Linked DNA regions of Homo sapiens: region 2 is linked to region 1. The links come from fine-mapping of genetic effects on gene expression. A gene starts in region 1. The other region holds a variant in brackets. All regions are shown on one strand. Distances are between the middles of the regions. Region 1 holds the start of LAMTOR1 (late endosomal/lysosomal adaptor, MAPK and MTOR activator 1). Region 2 has its middle 110 kb from the start of DEFB108B.

Region 1 (5,348 bases):
TACTTCTTGGAGCAGAAGGCTAGGGAACACTGACCTTTGACAGGCCCCATGTGGCTCAAGTACTCGCAGCGGCTGCTCCAGTGGTCCAGGGTGGTGAGGATGTGACCAGGGTCACCGGGCAGGGCATGGGTGAGCACGTAGCTGAAGGCCCGCTCCTCGATCCGCAGCCCTGACAGGCAGTCTCGGAGGCTTCGCAGCAAGACCGTGCGCACCAGCAATCGGAAGTAGTGCCGGTACCGCACCAGCAATGTTACCACCAGTGGCAGGAAGGCCAATGCAATGGCAGGGGACATGGTCCCTACCTGGGCCCTGGGGTGGAGGGAGGTAGGGAGGGAATCCCATACCCACAATTTGCCTATTTGTGTAGCTTTTGCCAGTAGCAATTATTATCCTTATATTTCACAAACCACGGCTCAGAAAGGCTAAGTCTTTTGTCCAGAGTCACAGAGCAGAACTGGGATTTGAATCCAGGTTAGTGTGATTCCAAGCCTGTGTACTTTCAAGGACTCTATACTGTCTACTTTCAGCACCCAGCCCCAAACCACCTCTTCCCGGTCCCAACCCCTGGTCCCATCTTCACATTGTTCCCCTGACTTGTTTCTCTTTATCCTTGAAGTCACCCCTTCTTCAGGACCCCTTTCACTAATTCACCTCTGGGATATCTTCCCCCACCCCTACCCTCTGCCTGCCTGGTCTCCTCTGACCACTGCTGTGTAGCAAAAGAGCATAGATTTGCAGTCAAAAACACCTTCACTATCACTGTGCCCTGCCTCAGTAAAATGCAATCAAAATACCCCATAGGGTGTTAGAGTGAGATGTCCTCTTTCCCACCCCAGGACTCTCCCTCTGCCTGCTCTTCCCTGAGGATGGGAGGAGTCTTTGATTCTTTAATAATTCTCCAGCCCCATCTCCTCTCCGCTGTATTCCCCTCTTCTCCTGTGCTGTCTCAGAATTCCCTTCACAAATGTGTACATACACATAACACACAGCACACATTTTCCCTCTACTCAGCTCTTCTCTCCAGGGACCTATGGGGAATGGGCCTCTCCTCCCATGTCCTGGACCATTCTCCTCCTCATCCAGATCTGACCTCCTTGCCGGCCTTCTTGCAAGGCCCCTGGTGATGGCGGGGAGTAAAAATGAAAGAGTGTATGGATGGGTGTGAATAGGTGAGTGATGCGGTGGGCTTGAACTGGTGAGCTTGGGAACCCACAATCCAGGGCCCTGCTTACCTGGGCTGGAGGACCAGAGCACAGGACAGGTCGGGGAGTCCAGGGCCTGCTGCGGGGGATAACCCTGAGGTAGGAGGCTGGAATGGCTTTCAATTATTCATGCTGAGGCTGCTGCTGTCACCTGAGACCTGCAGTTCAAGTTACCAGCCCCAGGGACGAGCTTGAGCTGCCTCCTACCCTTCAGGAACCTCAAAAGATTTACAGAACCTCAGGGTCTTGATTTGAGGGGTTATAAGAGGTATGAGATCTGGTGACTTCTCCAATACTTTGGATCAGAAGATGGGGCATGGGGTGAGCCAAGGTGATGGGGTGACTGTAACATGCTCATTGATATGCAAGTTTTCTGTAAGCAAGGCCATGCCTTGGGCTACAGGGAAGAGTCAGAACCTGTCACTGTGCTCCAGGAACTCCCAAGTTTGGTAGGTGAGACTGACCCAGGAACAGAGAATACAATATAGTGTGATCACTATTGGATGTTCCATGACTACAGGGACTTTGGCTGTTTTGTGAACTGCTGCATATCCAGATATAACAATGTGTGGCACATAGTAGACGCTCAGCAAATATTTGTTGATTCAATAAATGCATGAATTAACACTGGATGAGGATTAAGCATAGGGAGCTGGGCATGTCCAGAGAATGGAGTCAGAGAAGGTAATCAGGAGGACATTGTACTGAGTCTCGAAGACAGTAAAGACAGTAGGCAGACCAGGCTGCATGTACAAAGTCCAGTAGATCAATCAGGAAACTACATTATTTCTCTATGTCCAGTGAAACACATTGCTGACCCCTCCACCCCTCACCCCAGAACATGCAGTGGGAGAGGTGTCAGGCTCTTGTTATGTCAGACGGGTAATGTGCCAAAACAAGATTTGAGGGTGGCACATTTGATACATGCTGGTGAACACCCAATCACACGCTCATGAACAACAAATGGATCACTATACAATCTTGGACGGACTTGGACCTGTGTTCAGGGCCCAAGGGAAGACATGGAGCGGGGGTTAGGAAAAGAGAACTGATGGTCAGCTTTGTGCGTTCGATTACAATGGGTGCTGTTAAAAAAGGCAGAATTAAAGATAAAAGCCTGAAAGCAGAGAGGTCAGTGAGGTGGCTTCTATCTCCTCTACCAGGATTTATCTCCGCTGCGCGTCAGCATGTGAAGGTAGTATAAGGTCCCTTCTTCCTGTAAGTCGCAGATCCCCAGCCCAGGTGGAGAATACACCCTCTGTGTATTCACCCCCAGCCCAGCTGGGCGATACACCCTCTGTGTTCCCCGACTAGGTACTGGTCATCTGGATCATCTGTGTGTGTGCACCCAGACCGTACGATCTGGAGCATCAGGCCTGGATCCCAGTCGCCCCTCGCATGGCATTTAGAAGAGTATATCACAAGGGCATACGAGGGCATTTGGTACGAGTTCGCTCAATGGCCCAGAAAAGTGGCCTAGTGGCCACGAGAACGCATAACACAATTCACGATGGCCACTACTGCCAGTTTAGAGACTGGAAAGATGAAGTCATGTGATCCGCCCCGCCCTTTCCCCGCATCACGTGCTTGCGTGTACGGTTACGCCTTCCCATTGGTTGACAACGATCACGCGCTAGCGGGCGGGACCGGAAGCCGGGGTATTGACTGAGGCGGCCAAGCGGCTCCGGGACAGGGGGTACGGGGGGTGGGGGCGGGTGGTTGCCTGCGGGAGGCCGCCGCGGGTCATGTGACCGGAAGGGCTCCTCACGGACGCCGTCCCTCCTCGGCGCGGCCTGAGCGCCCGGCCCGACCCCGGCCATGGGGTGCTGCTACAGCAGCGAGAACGAGGACTCGGACCAGGTGCGGCCGCGGCAGGCGGGGCTCGGGAATGAGGGCTAAGACACTGGGGCATGGGGCCCAGAAAGAAACCTGCGGAGGACGGGCAGCCGGACTGCAGGGCTCACTGAATACGGAGGCCTGGAGGGGACAGATTACAGAGGAGACGCCAAGCCGGGCTCCTACCCCTGTTAAAGCCCCAGATTTCTACACAGTCCCCGCCTCGGGGTGTGCAGGCAGCCGCCTGTCCGGCTCGCTCCCACCACTTCCGTTTGCTCCTACCTTCAAAACTTTTCAGATTCAAGGATCCTCAGTCTAGGTCCCCGGGAAACACTCCCTTCCCCAGCTTCCTGTGTCTTCTGTGTATTAGTGGGCTTTGCGAATCCATTTTAGGGGTGGGTAAGCTGAGGCCCTGAGTTAGTCTGTCCTGAGATGAATCAGGAATTCGTGTATCGTCTTAGTCCCTGGGGTTGCAGAAGGAAGGTCGCTGCTAGTCTAGGGCCAGGGGACGACTCTGGAAGTTGGTGGCCTTTGAATTGGCCAATGAAGGATTTAATCGATACAGTGAGGACATCGGGACATGTGGGAAATTGTCTGGGAAGCAACAAAGAGGATTTAGCTTTGGCTAGATTGTGGGAAAAGAGAAATGGAGCGGGAAGTTCATTTGGTTCTGAGTTTGGCTTGCCTCAGTGCAGTCTGCCTGGGGCCTGAGGGTTCCTTTAGCTGGAGACATGCCTATTCTGAGAATTTGGCTGTAGATCTGATACCTTTGGAGAAAGGGTTAGGCTGGGGAGACCTGTACAGTTTTAAATTCTCCCTCTTCCTCTTAGTGCATTCTCACTTCTCCCCACACTCTAATCCCTGCCCTGCCTGGCCTGACATTCAAGGATGAAGTCTCAAGTTGCTGTCTACTCTCCTTTTTTGATCGTCTCTAAGCCCGGATTCTACATTTGAACATATAGTAGACCTGAGAGAGTAGAAAGGTTTCAGGTAGCTCACGGTCTAATGGGGAAGATGGTCACAAAAATAGATTATATCACTGGTACTTGGGAAGTAGTTCGTTCTTCAGTGAACGTATTTTGGATTAAGGGCTTAAGCCTAGGAAAATGTCGTTTGTATGGGAAGCAAGGGTGGCTTCTGGTTCTCAATTCTCCATACACCCAATGAACACATATTTCCTTTGCCCTGTGTTAGGCATGTGTTGTGCCTAATACCTCTCACTTCACTTCCACCTTTTTGAGAAAGAGACAACAATAACCCTGCCTACTGGGAGAGCTGTAGCCTAGTGGGAAATTGTCCCTTAAAGCATAATATGGACTCTTGCAGGGAATGAGTCAAGAAGGATTAATGCCGTATGAGAAAGGATACAAGCTTCTACTTGGAAGGGAGAGCTGGGCCTGCTGCTCTCCTGAATCTCTACCTTCTCCTTGGGGGGCTCTCATTTCTGTTCCTAACACCCAGAGAAGGTGCTTAATCACTGCTGGGTGATTTGAGGCCTCATGTAGCAAGGGCCATAACCATCCACCATCCCACAGTCCCTCTTTGAGTTCTTGGGCAGGCCCCTCTCCGACTCTCATCTCTGTCTCTTTATCATAATAAAAAATATACAACACGTTACAGTTTACAAAGGGCCTTCACAGTTATCTAATTTGACTCTTGCCAGACATCCGTCATATTAGTGTGGGTTATGTCTATTGAAAGGTGAGGAAGAAGTTCAGAGAAGCTAAGTGATTTGGCCAAGCTGAGAAGTGCTAGTGCCCAGGTGTTCTGACGCTAGGCCATGTACTTTATCCATGGGGCCAAGCTGTCTCAGCCATGCCCCTAGACCAGGTGGCCAGTCACGGGCAGGCTGCTATGTCTGTGCTAAGGTAGACAGTGAAACCCTGCCTCTTGGGTTACACTAATGCAGAGACAAACCTTGATGTGACAAACCTAACCCATGCTCCACTCGCACTTTGGGAGTGGGGTGATGTTTGTCTGCTCTGAAGTAGGTAGCATGGCCTCTTCTTTAAGTCTGGGTTTCAAGAAAATAACCTTGTTGTTCACTTGATCTTAGCTGAAGGCTGAGAAGTGATCAGCCAACCTTCTTCTTGAAGAACCCCTGATAGGGAAGAGACTACCCTGTCCTGCAGGAAGATCTGTCTGAAGTGGAGCTGGGAGGACAGACACATAGGAAGCTAACTTGGGCCTCATTATGGAGCCAGCTTTCCTTAGAAATACATAGTTTTATCTTTGGCAAACATTTTGTCTTTTTAGCTCTTTAATACTGAGCCTATGTATTTAGGGAGGAAGGGTGTCTGGGAGTTTATA
Region 2 (5,378 bases), 380 kb after region 1:
GCCAGGTGCGGGATATAGTCTCCTGGTGTGCCGTTTGCTAAGACCATTGGAAAAGTGCAGTATTAGGGTGGGAGTGACCCGATTTTCCAGGTGCCATCTGTCACCCGTTTCTTTGACTAGGGAAGGGAATTCTCTGACCCCTTGCACTTCCCGGGTGAGGCAATGCCTCGCCCTGCTTGGGCTCATGCTCAGTGCACTGCACCAAGTGTCCTGCACCCACTTTCTGACACTCCCCAGTGAGATGAACCCAGTACCTCAGTTGGAAATGCAGAAATCACCTGTCTTCTGCGTCGCTCAAGCCAGGAGTTGTAGACTGGAGCTGTTCCTATTCGGCCATCTTGGCTCCACCCCCGCTATTATGATTCTTACACAGAGTACTTTGCTTTCCAGCAGCCTCCTCTTCCTCCTTTTTAGGTTGGAATCCCTCTATTTTAGTGGCCACTGGGATTCTGAAATGACCAGGTCTTTGTCTCAGAGACCTCACACATGCTCTTCCCTCTGCCTGGAACACTTTTCCTTGCTCTGATCCCCTAAGATCTCTTTCAGCTCAACCGCCCCATGATCAGAGACCCCCTTTCTCCCTCTCTAGCTTGAAGCCAGTTTACCCCTGTAGTCTGTACCTGGAAAACTCGTTTTCCTCCTTGATGCCTCCTGAGTTGTCACGGGATGTATGTGCCTGTTTGGGTGTCTGGTGTCTGTCTCCCTGACTGGACTGCATGCTCCTGGTGAGCTGGAGGGACTGGACTAGCGCAGGCCAAGGCCCTGGGGCTGGAGGGAGCAGGGCAGAAGGCACAGGCAAAAGGCCTTTGTGATCCGGAAGGAAGTGAAGGAGAGGGAGAGAGATGAGAGAGGCTGGCAGAAGATGGGCCAGGGGCCAGTCTGCGTGGGATCTTTTGAGCCACAGAAAGACATTTCAATTCTTATGTAAGAGAACCAGGACACCATTGGAGGGTATGAGTCACCTCATCTAACTGAGCTCTGTAAATGTCAATGTTTTATTATTTTTATACAATTATTTAAAAGTGATTCTAGTTATTTACCTTTTTATTTTTATTACTTTTATTTTTTTTTTGAGACAAAATCTTGCTCTGTTGCCCAAACTGGAGTGCAATGGCATGATCTCAGCTCATTTCATCTTCCACCTCCTGGGTTCAAGTGATTCTCCTGTATCAGACTCCCGAGTAGCTGTCGTTACAGGCATCTGCCACCATGCCCAGCTTATTTTTGTATTTTTAGGATAGACGATGTTTCACCATGTTGGCCAAGCTGGTCTTGAACTCCTGACCTCAGGTGATCCACCCGCATCAGCCACCCAAAGTGCTGGGATTACAGGGGTGAGTCACCATGCTCGGCCTTATTTACTTTTTTAAAAAAGATCAGGCCAGTCACAGTAGCTCATGTCTCCAATCTCAGCCTTTGGGAGGCTGAGGTGGGATGATCACTTGAGGCCAGGAGTTCGAAACCAGCCCAGGCAACATAGTGAGACACCCCCTGCCCCAATTTCTAAGAAAATGAGAAAATTAGACACGGTGGCTTGTCTGTATCCCCAGCTACTGGGGAGCCTGAGCTAGGGAGGACTGCTTGAGAGCAGGAGTTTGAGGCTCCACTGAGCTGTGATTATGCCACTGAGCTACAGCCTGGGCAACAGAGTGAGACCCCGGAGCCGCCTCAACCTCCCTAGAGCTGACCGAGCTTTTGCTTCTTATCACAGGGAATGACGGACGCTGGGGCTTTGATGGGCATCAGGTGAAATGGGCAGAGTGACGCTTACCTGGGATGGCAGTGAGGTGGGACGGGGAGGTCATTGTGACAAGGGGCGGCATGAGGTACTTGGCCTTGACGCCCTCCCCGGCCAGACGGTCCAGGTTGGGGGTGTCCACATCCTGATCCTAGTCCCAGCGGAAGCCCTGGAAGGAGATCAGCAGCAGTTGTGAGTGCTCTTCTTCCCTGGGAGGAGGTGGCCGCCCAGCAGGACAGGCAGCGGTAGCAGCAGCTGGAGGGCGCCGAGCCACGTCATCCCACGAGCACCTGTCATGCACTCCTCACACAGTTCATGGGCTTCTCCCTCTTTAGTCCGTTGTTGAACAAAGTCACATTAATAATTAATTCAGCCCAGCTCTGTTGTGGGACAAACAAACTGGAGTGTAGCAAGGTGCTGCATATTTGCAGGACAGTATGAAAGTGTTCTGGAGATGGGTGGGGGAACATGGCTGTACAATGTGGTGGATGCACTTAACACCACTGAATTTTTCCTTTGAAAATGGCTAAAATAATAGATTTTGTATGTATTTTACCACAGTAAAAAATCAAACTGGCCGGACATGGTGGCTTACACCTGTAATCCCGGCACTTTGAGGCTAAGGCGGGTATATCATTTGAGGTCAGGAGCTCAAGACCAGCCTGTCCAACATGGAGAAACCCCATCTCTACTAAAAATGCAAAAATTAGCCAGGCGTGGCGGTACATGTCTGTAATCTCAGCTACTCGGGAGGCTGAGGCAGGAGAATTGCTTGAACCCAGGAGGCGGAGGTTGCAGTGAGCCGAGATTGCGCCACTGCATTCTGACCTGGACGATGGAACGAGACTGCATTTCCAAAAAAAAAAAAAAAAAAAAAATCAAACCACATGAATATTTTGCACTCTTATACTAATTCCAACATTTCAAGATCTGGGGAGAACAAACTAGATTGGTGCTTTCCTTGGCTTTGTATGTTCTGTTTTTATAGGGAGAGCAAATTATTGTTCACCAGCACTATTAAAATAGCTACAACAGGATGGGCATGGTGGCTCACACCTGTAATCCCAGCACTTTGGGAAGCTGAGGTGGGAGGATCGCTTGAGCCCAGGAGTTCAAGATGCCAGCCTGGGCAACATGGTGAGA[C/T]CCTGTCACTACCAAAAAATATAACAACAACAACAAATATAGCTAGGTGTGGTTGTGTGCATCTGTAGTCCCAGCTACATGAGAGGCTGAGGTGGGAGGATCACTTGTGCCCAGGAGGTTGAGGCTGCAGTAAGCCATGATTATGCCACTGTACTCAGCCTGGGTGACAGAGTGAGACCCTATATGGAAAAAAAAAATAAAAAGCTGCAGTGGACTCAGTGATCATGAGGCCAGGCACTGTATACATATACATCATCTCATTTAATTTTTTCTTTGTTTAAAATTATTTTTTCCTCTAATCCCCATGTTGATCGACATTTTTTTTAATCCTAGGAATTATTTGAAAATTTCGCATAAGAATTAAAAATTGCCTGGCCTGATGGCTTACACCTGTTATCCCAGCACTTTGGGAGGCTGAGATGAGAGAATCACTTGAAGCCAGGAGTTTGGGCCAGTCTGGGCAATAAAGCGAGAATGCAACTCTATAAAAAAATTTAAAAAGCTGTGTGTGGTAGCGTTCACATGTAGTCCCAGCTACTTGGAAGACTAGGTGGGAGGATTGCTTGAGCCCAGGCGGTAAAGGCAGCAGTGAGCTATGATTGTGCCATTGCACTGCAGCCTGGGTGATGGAGTGAGACTCTCTCTCTAAAATAAATGAATAAAATTGTGGTATAATATATGCAACATTTACCATTTTGTGTATCTGAAAGTGTACAGTTCAGTGACATTTTGTACATTTATCATGTTGTGCAATTGTCACCACTACCTAGTTTCAGGGCTTTTTCAACACCTCAATTGGAAGCCTCATATCCATTCAGCAGTCACTTTGCATATCCCCTCCTGCAGCCCCTGGAAACCCTTCATCTACTTTCTATCTCTGTCGATTGGCTTAGACTGAACATTGCATATAAATGGAATTGTACAATATATGACCTTTCATGTCTGCTTCTTTCACTGAGCATGTTTTTAACGTTCATCCATATCACAACATGGATAAGTTTTGTTTTCTTTTTAGACCCTATCTAAAAAGAAAAAAAAAATTGTAAAACAAAAACAAAAAAATGTATAGGATGGAGATCATATGAGTCCTGCAAAGTTTATATTTACTATCTAGCACTTTACATAGAAGCTTGCCTACCTCTGAATGATATGCAGGTACAGAGATGACATTTATCTTGGCACTTATAGAAAGACCTATAAATTGTATAAAGACATCATCATTGGATTTCCAGTAACAAGAAGCGGCAAGACATGACGGTGTGTCCAGGTGTTCAGGTGAAGTTTAGGGAAGGTCTTGTCTTGATGAGTTCGGATGTGAGACCCAGATGAGATAACCCCATTTCCCCTGCTGAAATTGCCTGAGAATTTCATTCCAGTTATTTGCGTAGGTTGATTCTTTCGGTGGGGGTGGGGTGGGTGAGGAGGTGAAGTGTCCGGGCAGTTCTATTTTGTATTTGCACAACTTGGCTTTCTTTTCACTTGGTGTGGTGTTTTGCTGTATGAGGAATTTCATAGAATTTTGTGATGAGTATGCAGCATAGTGGTTTGAAACCTGCCAGGCTGAGGGCCATATCTCAGCTCTGCAACTCATTATCTGTGACGCCTTGGGGCAGGTCCCTTAACTCTCCAAGCCTCTGTTCTATATTCCATGGGGTTGTGAGGTTCAGATGAAATAATGCATGCTGGCAGGAATGGTTACTGCTCATGGGATTTCCAGGTGCTCCCTGTATTCCCCAGACCCCCTGTAGTTAGATGGATCCATGCCAGGGTCCAAGGCTTTATAAGTGGAAGTCACTGATATCACCTCTAGTCTACAGCTTTTGAGGGCTTGGGAATAACTATCTCATTCTCTCATCTCCTGGTGTAGTAACTATGGGAGAATCCTTGCATTAACATGGTAGAATTTCCATCATTCTAGGTCTTTGAGTGGCCATATGGAGCACACCATACCCAGCCAACCCATTGTGGACATGGAATGTAAGAAATCAACCTTGGTTGCTAAGCTGCTGAGACTCTGGGGTTAATTTGTTACTGCAGCATAACCTGGTCCATCCTGATGCATGCAGCATGCAAACCACTTATGTTGACCCTTAGTCATGGTAAGTGCTCCACAGATGTTGGTTACTTTTGGTAGGAAGATAGATTGCCTCTGAAAGTTGTGTTAGCTGATCTCATGATGCCAATGTTGCTATTTTGTAATTGGATAAATTGGACTTGGCTCTCCTTCCAGCATGTGGGAGAGAAAGATGACTGAGAGACAATAAGGCACTATTATCTTCAGTTTGTGTCCTTGTATACCCTTGGTGGCAATGAACAATGCATGCCCCTCTGAGAAAACTGGACCTAAAGGAGAATGGGAGATGATACCAGAATTGGGAAAGTCCAAGGCCCCAGGCATTCCCTGGTCTGGAGACAACTTTGACTCCTTGGTGGGAAGATTCTCCAAGGGAACATAAATGTTTCTACTATCTAGTTTGTCTCTTTGAGAATTAAAACT

What was found. PIP is the estimated chance that this variant, and not a neighbour inherited with it, causes the effect. A credible set is the group of variants that fine-mapping cannot tell apart.
Region 2: its variant is the best candidate, but not a certain one, in a credible set for the expression of LAMTOR1 in whole blood (TOPMed, PIP 0.51).

What each region holds. Positions count from the first base shown.
Region 1 is chr11:72,100,897-72,106,244 of GRCh38, reverse strand. It overlaps LAMTOR1 (late endosomal/lysosomal adaptor, MAPK and MTOR activator 1), which reads left to right and starts at 2,948. Exons shown (of 5, transcript NM_017907.3): 1 at 2,948-3,062. The coding sequence starts at 3,021. It overlaps LRTOMT (leucine rich transmembrane and O-methyltransferase domain containing), which reads right to left. Exons shown (of 9, transcript NM_001145310.4): 6 at 1,233-1,281; 7 at 35-189. TOMT (transmembrane O-methyltransferase) reads right to left here and starts at 321. Exons shown (of 3, transcript NM_001393500.2): 1 at 35-321. The coding sequence starts at 293. It also overlaps the pseudogene LOC124902837. RefSeq lists enhancers at 1,862-2,382, 3,163-3,242 and a silencer at 2,793-3,062.
Region 2 is chr11:71,718,702-71,724,079 of GRCh38, reverse strand. It overlaps the pseudogene ENPP7P8. Among named protein-coding and RNA genes, the nearest start is that of DEFB108B, 110 kb to the left of the region's middle. The variant C/T (reference allele first, on the strand shown) is at 2,882.